Homo sapiens: one gene and its partner. The protein of the gene in region 2 purifies or fractionates together with the protein of the main gene of each other region. This does not show direct contact. Each region holds a gene or a part of one and is shown on either strand. Other genes may lie near its edges.

The links.
Region 1: the proteins of SOX1 (region 2) and SFMBT1 purify together in Homo sapiens (affinity purification with mass spectrometry; one large-scale study listed by BioGRID and IntAct). This does not show direct contact.

The regions. Positions count from the first base shown.
Region 1 is NC_000003.12:52,902,867-52,906,675, forward strand, and holds the end of SFMBT1 (scm-like with four MBT domains protein 1), read right to left. Parts: intron 3,376-3,809; coding exon 3,247-3,375; intron 2,411-3,246; coding exon 2,270-2,410; 3' UTR 706-2,269; downstream 1-705. UniProt on the Homo sapiens protein: Histone-binding protein, which is part of various corepressor complexes. Mediates the recruitment of corepressor complexes to target genes, followed by chromatin compaction and repression of transcription.
Region 2 is NC_000013.11:112,065,593-112,069,948, reverse strand, and holds the start of SOX1 (transcription factor SOX-1), read right to left. Parts: upstream 2,801-4,356; 5' UTR 2,291-2,800; coding exon 1,115-2,290; 3' UTR 1-1,114. UniProt on the Homo sapiens protein: Transcriptional activator. May function as a switch in neuronal development. Keeps neural cells undifferentiated by counteracting the activity of proneural proteins and suppresses neuronal differentiation.

The DNA of each region.
Region 1 (3,809 bases), on a different chromosome or scaffold from region 2:
ACGGGCTGAGCCTGAATAATCATGGTATAAACAAGCCTGTTGGGCTCTGACTCTACCTAGATCAGAGACTACGTAGGGCTGTATGTTTTGCCCTTCAGCGCCTTCATCCCCTCACCTGTGAAGGGAGATGATTCTTAATTCTGTGGTTTCTGGAGAAGTCAAAAGAGAGACAAAATAAAGCATTCATTGTTCTTGTGTTTGGTAAATTCCCTCTTATAGGAAATATATTTCACTTTCCTAAATAAGATAATAACACGAGGCCCTAAACATTAATTCCAGAAATTCTGTTCCATTATTCTTCCTCAAGGGGCCCTCTTTTCCTTAGTACCTTGACTGAACTCTCAGGAAATTTCATTAAGCAAGATTACCACCACTACCCACCAAAAGCTTAATGTTTAATGCTAATTATTCCCTAGCATTCCCTATATATCCTTGTCTTCCACAGACACAGATTTAAATTTTTAAAAACTGGATCTCTAAGTTTCAAACATACTAATTTTTACTTAAATGAAGCTTCTTCCCAGATAGATCTGGTAGGAACCTAAGTGAAGAGTTAATGATTTAATGTATGATTTAGTTGCAGGGCTTGAGTTAAGTTGGTTTATGAATTACCCAATGAAGAGAGGCTCCAGATTATTCATCAATGTCCACAAAAATAGGTTGGGGTGGTGGGGAATGGGAAAAAAAAATCACAATCAGTTAAAATTTGCTGTAATATTTCCTTATATTTGTAGAGCTGTTTAGAATTCACCCAGTTTGCAGGATTAAAACATTTTCAAATCTTGAGGAAGAATGATTGGGTTATAAATTTGCAGGTGATTAGGATAAAAAAAATTCAGCAAAGCAAACCATTTAAGGGAGACAACCTATGTATGTTTTTCCTCACTCCTCATGACTAGAATAGTGCAGCAAACGCTATTATTCTATAATAGCTAGCAATGGAATAGTAAGTGAAAATTCACCTGGAGTTTCATGTTAACTTGAGCTGGGCTAAAAGACACACTTAAAAGAATACTGAGTTGTTTAAATGGGAATCCTCGGACTAAAGATTATATTCAATTTAAAGGATTAGCTGAAAAAAGTCTAAGTGTGGCTAGGCAAAGAGGTTTCCAGAATCCTTAACCACATCTCAGTATTTATCCTGCCACTGAGGACACTGCTAACAGAAACTCCATGCTCTGCGTTACCCTCCAAAACATGTTTTCTGTGCTGTGCTTCTACACTGGAGACACCTGGAAAGAAGGACAAATGGGCTTCGCTGTGGGTCCATGGAACACTTACTGATTTTCACCCAAAGTAAAGACCTTAGAAATGAAACAGAGGTAGACAAACAACTCTAGAGAAAAGTAAACACAAAATAAAAGTCACTGAAGTCCCTCTGAGAATGAATAGGAAGAGGGCAATTAAACAGAAATACTAACAGTCTTGGTGATGTTACTTAACACAGGCAGCCTCGGCTGGGTCAAGATGGAGAACAGTAACAGTAGAGTTCTCAGATCAGGTCAGTTAAGGAACTGGTGTAAGTGCCCCATATAATGTTTTTAAGAAAGCAAACAGTTTCCCCCCCTCCAAATTCTGTCATAATTTTAGTGTTTATGTAGCTTAAAAATGGCATCATACAAAAAACCTCATACATGGCTGTAAGCTCAATTATCAACAGAGGTAGTAAACAAAGGAACTCCTAAGAATCGATTTTAAAATGATCAAAGTGTGACTATACATTCAAAACCCTAGAGCCACATAATCATCCCCAAAATGAACTGTTTTAATTTTAAAAAGTTTAAAAACACAATGACAATGAAGCACTGATATGCCTTAGGAACAGTCCCAAATCAGTGCTGACTTAAAGCTAAGTCCTCTCTTTCCAAGAAAAAGAAAGCAGAGAACAAAGTTCAATCTACAATGGGAGGGAACAGAATGAAAACAACCAAAAGGGTGCTTTCCAGCAGCCTAGGTTATTCTTTGTTTTCAGGCCACACCACTGGAAATGCTTTTCTTCTTATATAAGTCTTTTCCTCACAACCTTTATTTTTTAAAAACTGCCATCTGCTGAACAAGAGATGTCCACATTTCCACCAGCAGGTGATCCACTTCTGTGCACAGTTTTTGCTTCCTCACTGTGAGTCCTCCTTCCCCGAAAGTGCAAAGAGAGCAAGCTGATACCTGCAGGCCCCAGAGCCCCAGGACTATTCCAGCTCCACTTATAAAGCAGGGTGAAGGATTTGCTGCATTTGTGCTTCAAAGATCCAGCTCACTTTGGTTGTCCTTCTCAGTTGGCAAACTGCTCATAAAAAGCAAACTTGATCCTCTCTATGTGATGGCAAAGTTTGATGGCAGGGCCCAATTTTAAGTCCATGCATTCTTGAACAGTGGGAAGGGTAAGGAGCAACAGGGCCTGCCCATCAATTTCCTGTTAAAGCATAAAAGACAAATTATCTGTGATGTGCACATGAAAGGCAGCTTGATCATGACAGCCTCTCCTCACTTTAGCTCTGTCAAAACTGGAATCCCTATGCTTTCCTTTCCTTACTTTTTCGTCTTAGGTATCACACACTTCCTTTTAAGTGACTCCATAGTCTTCCACACTAATGAAGCTTCAGAATTAATAAAGTTTTACTGAGGACAATAAAGTTTTACCAAGGATAAGAATCCATTCCAGAGTCTCTGTCCCATAGAAATTTAGTAAACTGACTAGCCCTGTAACTGGCAACTAATTGTGCCATCTTTTTAGAGGGTTCCTTCTAAATCTGAAACAAAGGATTAACTATCAACTTCAATGTTTTCCTACTCTGTAACATTCATAAAAACCCGATAAGCTCTTGAATCTCCCTAATTTTCTAAACAAAACTTATTTCAATGTTTAAGGCCACTGACTGTGTTTCAGCAAGCTTGCCTTAAAACTTATCACCACTCTAGAGCCTAATGTGACAGATGCTATTTTTTTTTAAACAAGCAAATCATTATTTTTGAAAAGATGTGGACAATTAAGCATGGTATGCTTGATATTGGAGGGATGGAATCAAATTCTTAGGAAAAACTGGAATGCAATGATAATCTCCTTCAACTATGAAGCAAGTCTGATAAATAACTTTTTATCATCTTTGACTCCTAAAAATGGAATTAAGACAATTCTTGTCTTTTGGATCAAAACATTTTTCCTAAAACTTGTAAATAAATTGTTGACTATTACATCCATAATTTATTGCTAAAGAGACATTACTAAAAATTATAGGTATCTGTGATTACCTGGTCTAGGAATATTCTTGCTAATGGAGCACAGTCAGTGGATCTGATGAACCGCACAACGTCTGCCACACTCCACTTCAAGGGGTTACTGTCCAGGTGAAGCCTTTCAGCAACTTCGATCCTTATTTCCTTCATTCCCCACAACACAATCAAACCAAATGGTGTTACGGCTATTTTATTCTAAAAAAGTCTCTCTACCTAAATTCATAATCTTTCAAGACATGATTTAAAGTGGTCTTAGGACATGATTTCTCCCAGCAAAGATGGCAAAGACCCACGTGCATCAGGTACTCAGGAAATGTCTGTCTTTTATAATACGAAGTATCAATGGGAAAGAATTTATCTCAAAGTTCCAGCACAGATAATTTAGACAATTTAACTAAGAAAAACAGGGTGCTGAAGAGAAGGGGATGATAATTCCATTGAGAGAAGGCTTAACTAAACTACCAGGAGGAATCTTTACTGCTTCTGTTCATGGAATATTCTTAAAAAGCAATCTAGTTTTTGAACACTAAATTGTTCTTTAGTGTTATACATATGTTATAAAATGTTCATATGTATAT
Region 2 (4,356 bases):
CCAGCCAGGTGGAAGGCGCCCCGCTTGCAGCAAGGTAACGCGCAGCAGCCCCAGCCGTCCGCAGTGAAACAGCCGGAGCAGAAGATACTTTTATTTCTCGGCCCGTATTAACACTCAGCTCTACAAAATAACCTATAGGTTTTAACTTCCTTCTCTTTCATTGAAAAAGGTTCCTTGAAAAATCCTGTCCTCCCATTCCCCGGGGTTCCCTTACTTTTAGTTCATACAGATAATTTCCCTGTCAGATTTCCTCATTGCATTTTGAACTCATAAAACATGCACATAAAAATAGCATGTTACAAATTTATGGAGAAAATGGGCTCTGTCTCTTAAATTTGTTGACTCGAAACATTTTGGGTGGGGGGTCTTTTTTCGTTTTTAGAAGAAAGGCTTTTTAGAAAACTATGTACATAATCTGACTTCTCCTCCCCGCATTGCAACGCCGAAAATAAAATTTTTCACAATGCATTTACAAGAAATAATACAAAACCCAAAAAAAAAAATGGAAATGCTCAGATACATAAAGTTTTACAAAACCCAGAATATAACTCCGCCGTCTGAAGGAGGGGGTGGTGGTGGTAATCTCTTTGTATAAATTAACAAACCAACCCAAAAGAGCGGTAACAACTACAAAAAACTTGTAAGTGCTTGGACCTGCCTTACTACATTTATAACAAATGCGACGAGCTCCGCGTCACTTGGGCTCCGGCGGTCGGCGCCGTCCGGAAGCAACGCGGAGGAAAGTGAGCGCGCCGGCCGGTATACAAAAGTGGGCTTCGCCTCTCGCCTCGTTTTGACTTTTTTGTCCCCTCGAGCAAAGAAAACGCTTTCCGCTTCCTCCGTAGGTGATAAATACTGTACAAAAAGTCTCAAGAAAACACCGAAGTTCAGTCTAAAACCCAAGTCTGGTGTCAGCGCCCGGCGGTCGCCAGGGTCTCCGGGGAAGGTGAGTGGGGGACACGCGTCACCCGGCGTTCGTCTCCAGTATTTTCCTTTTGACAAGAATGTGGGAACGTCTGTACAAAAGCCACGCCGCGCCGGGGCGGGGCGGGAGCCGGGCGCGGGCCGCGAGCTCGTGGGTCGCCGCCGCAGAGTCCCCGGCGTCCCGAAGGCGCTAGATGTGCGTCAGGGGCACCGTGCCGTTCACGCCCGCGCCCGCGCCCTGGTAGTGCTGCGGCAGCGAGTGCAGCCGGCTCTGCGCCGCGGCCGCTGCTGCCGCCGCCGGGTCGCCCCCCTCGCCGGCGGGCAAGTACATGCTGATCATCTCGCGCAGGTCCCCGGGGCACGGCGCCCGCGAGTGCGCTGGGGCGGGCGGGCTGCCGCTGGGCTCCGACTTCACCAGAGAGCCCAGCGCGCCCAGGGCGCCCGACGACGCGGCCGCCGCCGCCGCCGCCGCCGCCACGGCCGAGTTCTGGTGCGCGCCGCCCGCAGCGGCGGCGGCGGCGGCCGCGGCGCCGTAGGGGAGGCCGCCGTAGCCCGAGGGCGACGCGCTCATGTAGCCCTGCGAGTTGGAGATGGGGCTGTACTGCAGCGCGCCCATGTCGTAGCGGTGCATGGGCTGCGGGTTGTGCGGGTGCGCGTGCGGGTGGTGCGGGTGCGGGTGCGCGGGGTGCGCGTGCGGGTGCGCGCCGCCCGCGCCCGGGTGCTGCCCGTAGGCCAGCTGCGCCTCCTGCATCATGGCCGCGGCCGCCGCCGCCGCCGCCACCGAGCCGGGGTAGGCGCCGTTGGCCCAGCCGTTGACGTGCGCGTAGCCGCCGCCCGCCGCGCCGCCTGGGCTCTCCAGGCGCTGGCCCACGGCCGCCGCGCCCACGCCCACGCCCACGCCCATGGCCACAGCCGCGCCGCCGCCACCCGCGCCGGCCGCCAGGAGCCCGCCGGCCAGCGAGTACTTGTCCTTCTTGAGCAGCGTCTTGGTCTTGCGGCGCGGCCGGTACTTGTAATCCGGGTGCTCCTTCATGTGCAGCGCGCGCAGCCGCTTGGCCTCGTCGATGAACGGCCGCTTCTCGGCCTCGGACATGACCTTCCACTCGGCCCCCAGGCGCTTGCTGATCTCCGAGTTGTGCATCTTGGGGTTCTCCTGGGCCATCTTGCGCCGCTGCCCGCGGGACCACACCATGAAGGCGTTCATGGGCCGTTTGACCCGGTCCTGGTTGGCCTTGGCGCCCCCGCCGCCGCCGCCGCCCCCGCCTCCGCCCCCGCCGCCGCCCGCCCCGGCGGGGCCCGAGAGGTTCGTGGGGGCCTGGGCGCCGCCGGGCGAGTGCAGGTCGGTCTCCATCATCATGCTGTACATCGGGGCGGCTGGCGGGTTCACCGGCACCGCGAGGAGAGGGCCTGGAGCATAGACGGCCGGGGTGGGAGGGAGACGGAGAGGAATTCAGACGGAGTGAGACGGGGGCGGGGGGGTCCTAGCGGAGAGAAGAATGGGGAGGGGTGGAGGCAACGACAACAAAAAAAGGCAGAAACACACGCACTCGGCGCCGGTTCGGCTCGCAGGTGGAAAGTTTCTCCTGATGCACAAACCACTTGCCAAAGAGGCCGACGGTCGGGGTCGCCGTCTTCGCCGCCACCGCAGCCCAGGCGCCCTCGGCGGAGCGGTGCAAACAGGTGCAGTCGTGGCCAAGTTGCAGCTCCGCTTTTGGGGCCGGGAGCGGTGCGCTGGGCCCGGCCCGGGGTGTGCTGTCTCCTCGCCGGCCGCCGCTGCGCGCTGTCTCCTTCCTCCTGCGCTCGGTCCTCAGCGGCCTCCAACTCGGAGGCTGCAACTTCTAGCAGGGCGGCGCGCCGCGTGCGCTGGGCATGTGCTGGTCCCAGGTGCCCGGGGGAAGCCAGGCGCCAGTGGCGGGGGGGGGGAGGCGCAGGGGGGCCTGCAGGGGGCGATTACGGTGCAGCCAGGGAGGGGCCCGGGGACAGCGGGAGGAGCGCGGGCTCGCGGAGAGGGCCGGAGAGCCGGGGCCGCCGAGCCCGGGATGGGCTGCCCGCTGCCTGCCCGGGGCCGTGCGCTCGGAGCGGAGGCGCACGCGGGGCCGGCGGCGCGCGGGGCCCAGCAGCCATACGCCGGGCCCGGGCTGCCATTAAATGAGCGCGCCGCGGCCAATGGGAGCCGGCGGCGGCGGTGATTTGCATGGCGCGCTGGCGAGTGACGTGGGGAGGGAGTAGATACACTGGGCGCGGGCGGCGGAGCGGGGAGGAGGGGAGGAAGGAGGGGGAGCAAAGCAGGAAGGAGGGGGGAGGAGGCCCGGGAGGGGGTGACAGCCACACCGCTTCCTGAGCGCGCGCGCGCGGCGGCGGCGGCGGCGGCGAACCCCGAGCTCGCCCTCCTCGCCGCTCCCCGCCCGCGCGTTCCGAATGATTAACGATTGGGTTGAAAAGCGAAGACTAAGAAAGGATCGTCGTGGGGTGGGGGGAGGAAACGCAGCCCCTGGCCAGGTTTAAACGGGCGCAGTGGAGACCCAGCTCCTCCTCTGCCCCCGCCGGCCAACTCTGTGCCTGCAGGGAAGGGGAAAGTTGAGTGCGGGGCTGGCACGTCGCCCTCAGTTCCCCCGAGTGCTGAAAAGGAGGGGCGCTCCCTTGGACGCAGGGGATACCCTCCGAGGGCCCCTGCAGGTTCTCTGCAAGGATCAGGCGGCTCAGCCATCCCCCGCCCTGCATCCGTTCTCGGCCGCGGCGTGCACTGAAGTTCGCCAGTGCCCGCTCTTGCAGCGAAGGCCTTCACAGTCCAGGCCCCACAATTCGGGTAAAGGGGGAGTATTTGTGTGGGCATGGCTCCATAGCTTCGTTTAGTATCAGCCCTAAACTTTTGTGGGGAGGAGTCTTTCAATGAGCCCGGGGCCATAGTCACGCACTCTTCCCAACCCGGATCTTCTTCCTCTGGAAAAGGAATTTCTAGGAAGGCCGAACACAACAAGATCTATCTGGAATCTAGTTCCTGAACAACAGTTGAAAAAGTTTGTTGAATCGCAAAATAATGATATGGCGCACGCTTTTCTGGAGTGAATTTCCCACGAGCTGGTTGCCTAAGAACGGAGAAAACTGCGTGAACTGCGCGGGGCCACATAAACCGAATGAAAGGCGGGGCCTCAGGACGGGTCTCAGCCGCCGGTCTGCGTCATGCAAAGGAAAGGCCTGGCTCGTGGAAAGAGTAAGGCATTCACCTGTGGTTATCATTCTTAAACCTCAAAGTGGCTTTGATTTGGGAACGTGAAAGAGATTTTCAAACGCAGTCTCAAGTAGCATAGCGCTCACACTACCGTTTCCACCAGACTGATCTGAAAGTGGTCCAAAGACGACTTTTGAGCCCAAGTATTCCTCCTCTGCCCTCCCCGAGGCACCCTGAGATGAGAGTGCTTGTGGAGATTGGTG